3 linked regions of the Homo sapiens genome follow. The protein of the gene in region 2 purifies or fractionates together with the protein of the main gene of each other region. This does not show direct contact. Each region holds a gene or a part of one and is shown on either strand. Other genes may lie near its edges.

Region 1 (3,748 bases), on a different chromosome or scaffold from region 2:
ACAAAATATACAAAAATTAGTTGGGTGTGGTGGCTGTGGTCCTAGCTACTCTGGAGGCTGAGACGGGAGGACTGCTTGAGCCCAGGAGGTTGCCATGAGCCAAGATCATACCACTGCACTCTAGCCTGGGTGACAGAGGGAGACCTTGTACAAAACAAAAACAAAAAACAAACAAAAGGCCTAGAGGCTGGCAAAACGGAGGCCCCCTACCCTGGGAATGGAGACTAGAAAAGGGTGAGGCTGCCAAGAGCATTTTGGGCATCCCGCCCAGCTGAGATGCTGGCACAGAACCATGGACAGGGAAAGCTGAGCAGGGAAAGTTTCCTGGTAACTGGGGTCAGGGGAGGCAGCACAGTGGCCAGAGTTGCAGGGAGGAAAGGTTGTGGCCCCGGGGTGAGACAGACAGAAAGGAGGGTGGGGAGCACCTGCCCTCTACAGGAAGCAGTCCGGTCGCCCTCACCGAGCCAGAGGGAGCAGACTCATCAAGACTTTGTGTCTCAGGAGGTCCCGATGCAGCTCCTGAAAATGACGGTATTTCTTCTTGGTTGTCCAGGAAAAGTCGCCGTGAGTCAAGCGGACAGAATACAGAGTGCAGGTTCCCACCTAGGGGTATGAGGAACTGAATGGATGTCCCCTGCGTGGGTCCCCGCCTCCCCACTCTGGCCAGCCCTCCTTTTGCCCCTTCCCTGGGGCCAGCCCAGCCACCTTGGATCCATTCCGGGCCGCCCTCCCTTTCCCCCTCCCTGGGGCCAGTCTGGCCACCTTGGATCCGCTGGTATATCTTTCGGTGCCCACCACCTGGGCTGTGACAGGGACCCCAGGTGCGAACACCAAGGGGTGCACTTTCAGAGACTGAAGCTCATAGATGGCCAGAAACGGGTGCATCCGGTCGGCTGGGAGGAAAGAAAGTCGAGGAGTGTAGACCACAACAGGCCCCAGCCCCCTGGCTCCCGAACGCCTCTCCTCCCTGAGGGCCATCCATCTTCCCTGTGTACCTGGGTCCTCTCCCTCCTTCAGGGTGTCCACCTCATCGGACTCCATCTGGAGCTGGCTGGAGTCCAGTTCGTCCCCAGTGGGGAAGAGGCTCTCAGGGGTCGCCGTCATCCTAGGAACATTGGGAAGCCTCAGGGAGGCGAGCTGTCCTGCAGAACCCGCCCCCCATCCTAACTCCCGCAGGTCCTCCATCTCTTCCAGATCCTCCTCTTCCCCCACGGCCTCCTGACCGCCCGCGGATGACGCCTGACCAGTTTGCAACGCCCCACCGACCCCTTCGAGCCCCCATCCCCTACCTTAGTCCTTCATCCACAATCCCAGTCCCGCCCCCCGCCCCCCGCCCCGTCCCGTAACCAGAGCCCCGGGGAACACCCAGCCAGGCCCGGAAGGCTCCGACCTGGGGCGGCGCAGCAGCTGCGCGGGGAAGCGGCCCTGGGTGGTCCGGAGAGCGCGCGGCTACGGGGCTCACGCCAGGCCAGGCGGGCCGGGGGCAGGGGTCCAGGCGGGAATGAGGAAGTTACGCGATCCCAGCCGGGGGTAGAAATCCCGAAATCTGAGCGTGCGACTGAGTCTGGAGGCCCCGCAGCCCGAGCCCGTTCCGTCCCCGCCCGATTTCCGAGACCCGGGACCCCCGCGCGCCCCTTCCCGGCCCCCTCACCCTGGCAGACGGAGCCAGCGCCCGCGGGGGTTCCGGAGCCAAGAGAGCAGACCGGAGCTGCAGCCGGAGCCCACGCCCCGGCCGAGGCGGGGCCGGCCGAGGCGGGGCCGGGGCTCAGGGCCTGCCCTCGGGGGCGGGGCGGCCCCCGGCCTCACCTCCGCGGGATTCTCGTCTGTCCTGTCCCGCCCCCGCTGCCCTCGGCCCGCCCCGCCGCCCAGTGCGCCACCGAGAGCCCCGGGCAGGGGGCCGCCCTGTGCCCTGCAGGGCCGCGGGGCCGCGTAGCTCTCTCGGTGCGGCGGGTAAGTGCTGCCCGGCGTCGGGGCGTCCCGCGCCGTCGGTCCCAGCGTGCCCGGCCGCTGCCTCCCGGGGCACCCCGCGCTGCGCGCATCCCTCGGGCTCGGCGCCCGCCCCGGGCCCCTCCAGCCGCGGGCGCTGCCTCGGCGCCCGGGGGACGCGCCTCCGCTGCGGGAGCTGCCGGTAGGTGCCCCGCTCCCGGACCCGCTGCGAGCCACATTTGGCCTAGCCCAGATAGCGTTTGTACCTGGAAGGAATGAGGGCGTAAAAGGCCTGAGGGGTGGTGGCTACAAACCCATTAGTGTATGAAAGCGGGCATTCTTTCATTCATTCACCAAACATTTATTGCGCGCTTACTCCGTGCCAGAAATTGAGAGTATGGTAGTAAATAAGATGGTTAGAGAGCCTGCTCAGCTGGAATTGGCAGTCTAGGGGGAAATAAAATTTTTTCGGGTATTAAAATACAAGATATTTCAATCTTTTTTAAAAAGCAGATTTATTTTTCTCTTTTGATATACATGTGGGTTTCTAGTTTTGCCCATTGTTTTAGCTCCTGTAAACATTCCTGTAAGTTTGCGTGGATAGTTTTCCTTTATCTTGGGTAACTAGGGAGTGGAGTTGTTCGATCATATCAGTGTGTGTTTAACTTATAAGAAACTGCCAAACGATTTTTTTCTAAATGGTTTTTCCATTCTAGATTTCCAAAATCAGTGTATGGTGGTTCCAGTTATTCCATGGCATGGCCAACGTTGGATATTGTCAGTCTTTAGCGTTGGCCATTTAATGGGTGTTGTGGGCACATCATTGCAATTTGATTTGCATTTGTCTGGAGATCAATGATATTGACCATGTTTCATGTGCTGATTGGCCATTTGTATGTCTTCTTTTATAAAGTGCCTATTCAGTCTTTTGCTATTTTTTATTTATTTTTATTTTTATTTTTATGAGACGGAGTCTCGCTCTTTTTTTTTCTTTTTTTGAGATGGAGTCTTGCTGTGTTGCCCAGGCTGGAGTGCAGTGGCGCGATCTCGGCTCACTGCAAGCTCCGCCTCCCAGGTTCACGCCATTCTCCTGCCTCAGCCTCCTGAGTAGCTGGGACTACAGGCGTCCGCCACCACGCCCAGCTAATTTTTTTTGTATTTTTAGTAGAAACGGGGTCTCACCGTGTTATCCAGGATGGTCTCGATCTCTTGACCTTGTGATCCGCCCTCCTCGGCCTTCCAAAGTACTGGGATTACAGGCGTGAGCCACCGCGCCCGGCCAGAGTCTCGCTCTTGTTGCCCATGCTGGACTGCAGTGGCGTGATCTCGGCTCACTGCAACCTCCCCCTTCCAGGTTCAAGGGATTTCCGGCTAATTTTTGTATTTTTAGTAGAGACGGGGTTTCACCATGTTGGCCGGGCTGGTCTCAAACTCCAGACCTCAAGTGATCCGCCCTCCTCAGCCTCCCAAAGTGCTGGGATTACAGGCGTGAGCCACCGTTCCCGGCCTTTTGCTAATTTTTTTTTTTGAGACAGAGTTTCGCTGTTATTGCCCAGGCTGGAGTGCAATGGCGCGATCTCGGCTCACTGCAACCTCCGCCTCCCGGGTTCTCTCCTGCCTCAGCCTCCTGAGTAGCTGGGATTACAGGCACCTGCCACCACGCCTAGCTAATTTTTTGTATTTTTAGTAGAGACGGGGTTCCTCCATGTTGGTCAGGCTGGCGTCGAACTCCTGACCTCAAATGATCCGCCCTCCTTGGCCTAAAGTGCTGGGATTACAGGCGTGAGCCACCGCACCCGGTCTTAAACTTATAAAACAGGCA
Region 2 (3,748 bases):
GGTGTTTACAATTCCTGAAGGGGAACCATTCTGAGTGACCCTAAGACCCAGAGTGTAACCTGGGGATGGGTGTCTGAAGAGGAATAAAGTGAAATCATTATGATTGAATAATTTAGAACTCTGGAGGCTGAAAAGCTAATGAAATCTCCTAGGATGTTCTACGAGGATGGTGGCCCAGGCACGAGAGTAGGGAACGGGGTCAGGCCTTATGATGGATACTTTAAATACAAATAGTTAGAGGTCACACTAATATTAGCTTGAGGTGTGCAGAATTTTAATTGGGTGCAGATTAGTGTATACATTAGAAATAAGCAAGATATTAAAAGATCAAATTTGCTGAAACACATCAGATAACATTATGATAAAGGTATTTGGAGTTTTATTTGAGTTAGATTTACAATCCCATTGTAGCATGGATCAAAAACAGTAAGTTGATAAAGAAATCAGATAAATTTTCACAATTTAAATTTTAATTGTTTTATTAAAAAGCATTTTGGAAAGACATTCATATTTGGTTTTGGATAGGTTAAAGCTCAGTGATACCATTTACATCAATTTTTATAGCATTTTAGAGAGCATGGTCTTGTGACATCTTAGGATAAGTTTTCTGTTAGTCACAGCATGCCAACAAGTACCTTGTGCTCCATTCTCTGGCCATGTTTTCAGACTCAGTAACTTCAAATAAAATAAACTGCCAAGTTGAGAAATTAACATTTGATAAAGTTTTTGCAACATCATACCATTGAGCTGGTGGATGTGGCTTAAGCATCTGAATTCATTAGAGACTATTGAAATGATAATGCAGAATTATACAGGTTTTGCAGATGTAGTTCAATATTTATCTATATGTATTGAAACCTCACTTGAGGATAGAAAAATCAAGCAAGTTCTTGTCTTACATTTCCACTCAATAAATGAAGAGGAAGAGATAATGAGAAAGCTATATAATCCTTTAAAAAAAAAATTCACCTTGTTTCTGACTGACAGTAACCCAATTCAGGCTTTTTACTCTTCATAAATGGAAGACAAGTAACCTAGATAGTACTGGCTATCTATAATTAAATATACAATATTGAAATCTATTTGCTTTGTGGAAATTATGTGTTTGTGGCTGATTAAAATATTCAGCTATGTAGGCTTCATCTTTTAGCTCAATAGAAAAATATAAATGACATTGGTGACTGAATTCCTACCAACGTGGCAAAGACATTCCCCAGACATACATAATTCACCTGCTGAATTGGAGATGATTCACCTTTCAGTGACTTCACAGGTGTTAACTTGGCCAAACAAAAAAGGGAAATCATCTTGTATTCATCTTTTGTTCCCTGAGGCAAGTTTTCAGTAAGATTGCTCGGGAAAAATATCACAATATACATATATAAGTCCATAGTATGTCTATTTGAATAATGAATTAGCACCACTGTCTGAGAGGTGAAAACTATTCAATGTATATTTTCTGGAAAATAACTAAATTGAGTTCCTCTTAACTAAATCAGAAAGAGAAGGAATCCTCAATCAGGATTTCATGTAGTACTGTATCACTCAAAGGAAAACTGATTGTATAGTGGTACTCAAATAAAGTGGGTCCAAAGAAAAATTATGAGAGAAACGTACCGATCAGTGATCTGGACCAAACAGACATGTGGCTGTGAAATCCAGGCAGTTGCTTGGTGACGAGGTCACCATCAGATAGTCATGGCTTATGTGCAGGAATGTGAGAATGGCCATGGGGAGGAATGGCCTGGGTTATGGGTCTTGCAGGAGTCCCACTGCTTGTGCCATTGCTCAAACTTCTGACTGCCCTGTGCAGCCGGTGCCAGGTCAGCAGTACTCTCTGCTCTGAATCAGTGTCAGCACTGGTCTCTCTAATGTAGTACCTTTCTTCAAAAAATGCTTTGTGAAGCTGCTGGTTAGCACTGTTCTTACTTCTGTAGTTAATATTCACCACATATTCCCCTTCTTTTGTGGAGAGATAAAGAAATTAAGGAAAATCACTCTCCATAAGTCCACAATCTGAAGACATGGAGGCTGAGGAGGCAGACCTGAATGAATAAGTGGATCATATGATAGGGCTAGATCTTAAATTTGGATACAGGAGACTTAAGGTAAACCACAGAAGCTTGTTGTTTATACATGTAGCTCTTTTGCTAAATATAAATGTGGCATGTGAAGATTAATAAATCTGAATGTAATGTACAGAATGTACTAGAACAGGAAAAAATTGGTGTTTACTGAGAGCTGAAGGTTACATCAAAAATCTAAAAAGTAATATTTTTGCATCATCTTAAAGTTTGCAAACAGTTTTGGCACATACATCATCTCATCTTTGCAATAACCTGTGGGGTAGATACAAAAGATGATGTTATTTTCATTTTCCAGATGAGGAAATAGGAGCCTGTTTCCTGGTCAGACAGGCTTAGTCAGCTGTGAGTGGCAGAGCTGGTGTTCCCACCTGTTACCCTCAACCCCAGTTCCATTGCTCCTAACATGATTGTATCCTGGATAAACATGGTATCAAGAATGGAGAGGCCAAGCGCGGTGGCTCACACCGGTTATCCCAACACTGTGGGAGGCCGAGGTGGGCGGATCACCTGAGGTCAGGAGTTCGAGACCAGCCTGGCCAACATGGTGAAACCCCATCTCTACTAAAAATGCAAAAATTAGATGGGTGTGGTGGTGCGTGCCTGTAAACCCAGCTACTGGGGAGACTGAGGCATGAGAATCACTTGAACCTAGGAGGTGGAGGTTGCAGTGAGCCGAGATTGCCCCACTGCACTCCATCCTGCACAATAGAACAAGACACTGTCTCAAAAAAAAAAAAAAAATGGAGAGTGAAATTTGGGAGGCTGAGGCAGGCAGATCACTTGAGGTCAGGAGTTTGAGACCAGCCTGGCCATCATGGCAAAAGCCTCTCTCTACTAAAAATACAAAAATCAGCCTGGCGTGGTGGTGGGCACCTGTAATCCCAGCTGCTCGGGGCTGAAGCAGAAGAATTGCTTGAACCTAGGAGGCAGAGGTTGCAGTGAGCCAAGATCATACCACTACACTCCAACCTGAGCAACAGAGAGAGACTCTGTCTCAAAAAAAAAAAAGGATGGAGAGTGAGAGAAAACTCAGAGACTTTGAAATAAGAAGTGAAAGAGGCCGGGCACAGTGGCTCACACCTGTAATCCCAGCACCTTGGGAGACCGAGGCAGGCAGATCATTTGAGGTCAGGAGTGCGAGACCAGCCTGGCCAACATGGTGAAACCTGTCTCTACTAAAAACACAAAAATTAGCTGGGCATGGTGGCGGGCACCTGTAATCCCAGCTACTCGGGAGGCTGAGGCAGGAGAATCACTTGAACCAGGGAGGCAGAGGTTGTGGTGAGCCAAGATCATGCCATTGCACTTCAGCCTGGGTGACAGAGCAAGACTCTGTCTCAAAAAAATTAAAAAAAGAAGAAGAAATGAAAGAAACTTGGCAATTGATTGGGTGTTTCTGATAAAGAAACAGAAGAAGGAAAAGGTGATTCCTAGGTTTCTAAAACCTGGAAGAGGTGGACAGTGAGATTATAATATAAGCAGCTGATGTTGGCAACATGCCTACTATGTGCCAGGCCATGTGCCAAGCATTTTGCCATATTGCCTTATTAAATCCTTACAACTCTTTGAAGGTAGATCGCATAATTATTATTCTCATTTTAGAAAAGGGTGTGCATGAAAGTTGCTCTCACTTTTAGAAAAAGAAAAAAATCTTCCCTCCA
Region 3 (3,748 bases), on a different chromosome or scaffold from region 2:
CTTTGATGCCTTAACATAAGGAAGCAACCAATGCTGCAAATAATAGAGAACAGCAATGAAACTTTCAGGGGTGGCTGGGGGGTGTAGGCTTTTAGTTCCAAAAATACACCATAGGCGGCCTACCTCACCTAGAAATACCATCAAACCCACACAGTGGCCATGCCTGACTTCTCCATAACCTGAATCAAGCCAAGTATATATAATGACCTCCGCCGGATACATTCTCTACAGGTGAGTGGGGTAAACTGGCACTGCGGTCCTGGCATGGTGGAGAGTGCAATCACCAAGGTGTCTGGAGCCTTGGAGTCTTAGCTATCAAGAGGTGTAGCTAGCTCCAGCTACATCACGCTCTTCAGGCCTGGTGTCTTCTCTGTAAAACGAGAGGGATGAAACAGATTTTCTATAAGGCACCTCTCGGCTCTAAAATTTAAGATTCCAAAGTGTACTTTACATACATGACAGAATCTTGTGAGAGGATCAACAGCTCTGCCAGGACTTGAGTCTCAAGAGAAAGAATGCCAAATTTAATCCCTTGGGGTGATGCGGGCGCTAACTGTTGAAACATGCTAGGTGCCGTCAGGTTCCAGGTACTACGTTGTGCTATGCGCTGCCTCCGCAACTGGTAACAACTGATTACTCCAAATACTGAGTGCCAGAGAAGACGGTGATAAGATGGGTCAAGCTTCAAAAAGAAAAACCGGATATGCTTAGAACAAGATAAACATAATTTGAAGATAGAAAAGGGGGGGATGTCTTCTTGCCCTAGAAACGAGGTAATCACAAGCTGGGAGTGGAAACAGTAGCCGCAGCGTCCTCCCAGCATCTGGAAAGTCGCCCGCTCGTAAGAGGGGTCGGCGCTACCCGAGGGAGGCCGCAGGCCTACTGGGGTTTCCTGCTGGGGGTCGCACCCGGACCCGCGGCCGGGACGGCTCTGCACCTTCGCGGCACCCCGTGTGCCACCCTGAATCAGGCCCCGGCAGCCGCTCCTACGAGCAGCAAAGGGTGGTTCTGGGTATTGTCGGCCCAGCGCTCACTCGCGGATGTATTTTCCTCCTGTGCCCTGCCTGACATCTCAATCGGACCAAAAACACCCCTCTCCCCAGCTACTTGCATCTGTCCCGCGACTGGTGCAGCTGCAGGCCGCCGCCCTGGGTGGCTCGCGGCAGGAGGGACTGAGCCCGGGGCAGCCCACAGGGGCAGGACCGCGTCGCTTACCCAGATGCCGCCGCGGCGGCAGGCCGACTCCTCCGTGCAGGAGGGGCGGGCTCCCAAGCCGCGCACTGCAAGCAGTGGCGCCGGCTCACGCACCCCTCGGCCGCCTCTCGCGCGGCTTCCCGCGCCGGCAGCCCGCGATGGCCCCACGTGACCGCGTGTCTGGTAGCAGGGGAAAGAGGGGCGCCAGGGCCGGGGTGTGCGTGCGTGCGTGCGTGCGTACGTGCGCGCCCTCCCGCCCGCCCGCCTCAGTGGCCGGGCGGGGGTCGGCCCGCGCTCTGAGTGCCGCCGCCACAGTTCGCAGTTGTGACTCTGTAGGCGGAAGCATAGGGACAAGCCTGAGCGTCACAGGCTCCCCACAAACAACCGCGTGACCCGGGGACTTTCCCCAGGGTGTGCAAAAGCACAGGCACCCCCTCAGTTCTGGGGTGAAGGTGGGGGTGGGGAAGGATGCGCCCGCGTGTTCGCTGGGGAAGGGATGAGGGCGCGGGGCCAGGGAGGCCGAGCCGCGGGAGCCTGGGTGGAGAGGCGGACTGGGCGAGGTGGGGCATGGCGGGGGAAGTGACTCAGGGCCAGAGGCAGCAGGCCCACGGAAGGTGGGGTCGGGGGGGCGCGGGGACTGGGCGACCCTGAACCGACGGGGCAGGGCGAGGTTGCCGGAGCACTCGAGGCGGACCGCGAGTGACGGCCCAGCTGCTGGGCCCAACGGGCAGGGGTCTGACATCTGGACGGAGTGGGAAAGCAGCCTCGCATCCTGCCCTGGGGAGTCGGGAGGAGCCCAGTTCCATCCAGCTGTGCAAACAGGAGGAGGAGGAGGTCCCAAGCCTACCCTTGAGAGGGGCAAGAGGGGTGGTCAAGCCGCCGCCGCCGCGACGGCCCCCGCGGTGCGGGTTGCGCCAGCCTCCTCGGAGCTCGACGCAGAAACTTGTTGCAACAAACAGGCGACCGCGGGTGCCCCTAGCAGCCAGCGGCAGAGTGGGTGGGCGGGCGAGAGGGAGGGGAAGGCTGGCGGACGCCGCAGCGAACTGGTGGGCAGACCCGGAGTCGCCGCGTAAGCGGGGCCGGCTCAGTGCGGTGCGGCAGGCGCGGCTGTGCGGCAGCGGAAGTCCTTTGTTGCAGCACAGTCCCTGGCAGAGCCAGAGCCTCTCCGCGCAGCCCAGCCCGAGCGCCGAGCGCCGCGCGCCGCCGCCACTGCAGCTCGCGGCCCCTTCGCCTTCGCCCGCCTTTCCCGCGGCTGATTTGCCTTAAACTCCCTAAAATCTCCGCAGCTCTGGTTCCTGTTGCGGCCGGTAAGTATTTGCCAGTTGTGGGGCTATTTGCGCAACTTTGGCCCAGGCCGGAGGGCGACGGGCCGCGGGCCTGGCGGAGTGCGGGGCCGGAGGGGCGCCGATCCGTGCGGGGAGCCGGAGCGCGGCGGACGCGCTGCGAGGACCCGGTGACGGGCGGCTGCCAGGCCGCCTGCTTGTTGCCGGCGCGTCAGGTCCCGGGCGTGCGGCCTCCCTGAGTCGGAGGCGAAGCCCCTACGGAGACTAGTTCCCAAATTAGTTACCTTCTTTTCTTTCTTTCTCTGCCTTTATTTTTTTCGAGGGGGGAGGGGAGGTGTAGACGGGAGGCGGGAGAACCCGGTTGATTGACGTGCCTAGAGCCCGCTTCTCTCAACTTACAGCTGCGGCTCGGCGGCGGGTGGGAGGGGAAGTGTCCCGGAGCCCGAGGCTGCAGACTTGGGCGCGCTCCGAGGGAGGAGGCGTAAGATCCGTGCAAATTCTTGTTACGCTGTTTCCCACCCCCTCTCGCCGGCACACACGCTTTTTGTTCAGTAAAAAGTGGAAGGTCTGAGTTTGGGAATTTTAAGTGGAAAAGATCTGTTTCTTGGGAAGGGAGTGCTTTCGCTTGCAGCGGTGGGCGCTTACTAGAAGTTCGGTAAATGTGTTGGATGCAGATCGGGAGTCGTTACTACTAAAGTATGTAGGCAGGGTCTGAGCTCAGCCACCCCACCCAGTCTCCCTTTCTACCTAAGCAACGCGTGTACATGATCTGAAGGGTTGACATGACATTTTCTAAATTGGGCGAATCAGGAAGAGGTTGATGAAAATCCTTGACGTTTTCTGGGGATAGGACATTTGTGTGTGATAACGTTCTTAAGTCGAATTTCAGTGTGGCAGTGCACGCAGATTCTTCATTGGTGTTAGTGTATTTCCATACGGTATGTATCAGTACAAGAAATAGTGTTCCCTTTGACACTCGAACCCAAGGAGTGGTCCGAGGCTTTTTGAGGCAACGTAGGATCAATGTCTCTGAAGCAGATTTGGTGAAGGATGCAGGTCTCATAATTTACAGAGCAATCACAGCCTTCTTTGAAACGGAGAAATTAGATTCTATGAAATTTTGTCAGTGCAGATAGATATGATGTGGAGAAACGGGGAAAATTGAGTACAAAAAGATGAGGCTTGAATGATGGCTGGCCAACATTTGCTCAGAACCTCAAAACTTTGCTTTTGAATCACTTGCTGGATATCTAATAAAGTCTCAATAATAA

What was found.
Region 1: the proteins of GPR156 (region 2) and PLD2 purify together in Homo sapiens (co-immunoprecipitation; 3 studies listed by BioGRID and IntAct, with this or other methods). This does not show direct contact.
Region 3: the proteins of GPR156 (region 2) and ZBTB1 purify together in Homo sapiens (co-immunoprecipitation; 3 studies listed by BioGRID and IntAct, with this or other methods). This does not show direct contact.

What each region holds. Positions count from the first base shown.
Region 1 is NC_000017.11:4,805,129-4,808,876, reverse strand, and holds the start of PLD2 (phospholipase D2), read right to left. Parts: upstream 1,726-3,748; 5' UTR 1,652-1,725; intron 1,106-1,651; 5' UTR 1,105-1,105; coding exon 996-1,104; intron 894-995; coding exon 763-893; intron 604-762; coding exon 461-603; intron 1-460.
Region 2 is NC_000003.12:120,194,530-120,198,277, reverse strand, and holds part of GPR156 (probable G-protein coupled receptor 156), read left to right. Parts: intron 1-3,748. UniProt on the Homo sapiens protein: Orphan G-protein coupled receptor involved in the regulation of hair cell orientation in mechanosensory organs of the inner ear.
Region 3 is NC_000014.9:64,502,446-64,506,193, forward strand, and holds the start of ZBTB1 (zinc finger and BTB domain-containing protein 1), read left to right. Parts: upstream 1-2,324; 5' UTR 2,325-2,501; exon of another isoform or gene 2,502-3,415; intron 3,416-3,748. Other genes in the region: ZBTB25 (zinc finger and BTB domain-containing protein 25), read right to left, coding at 456-565.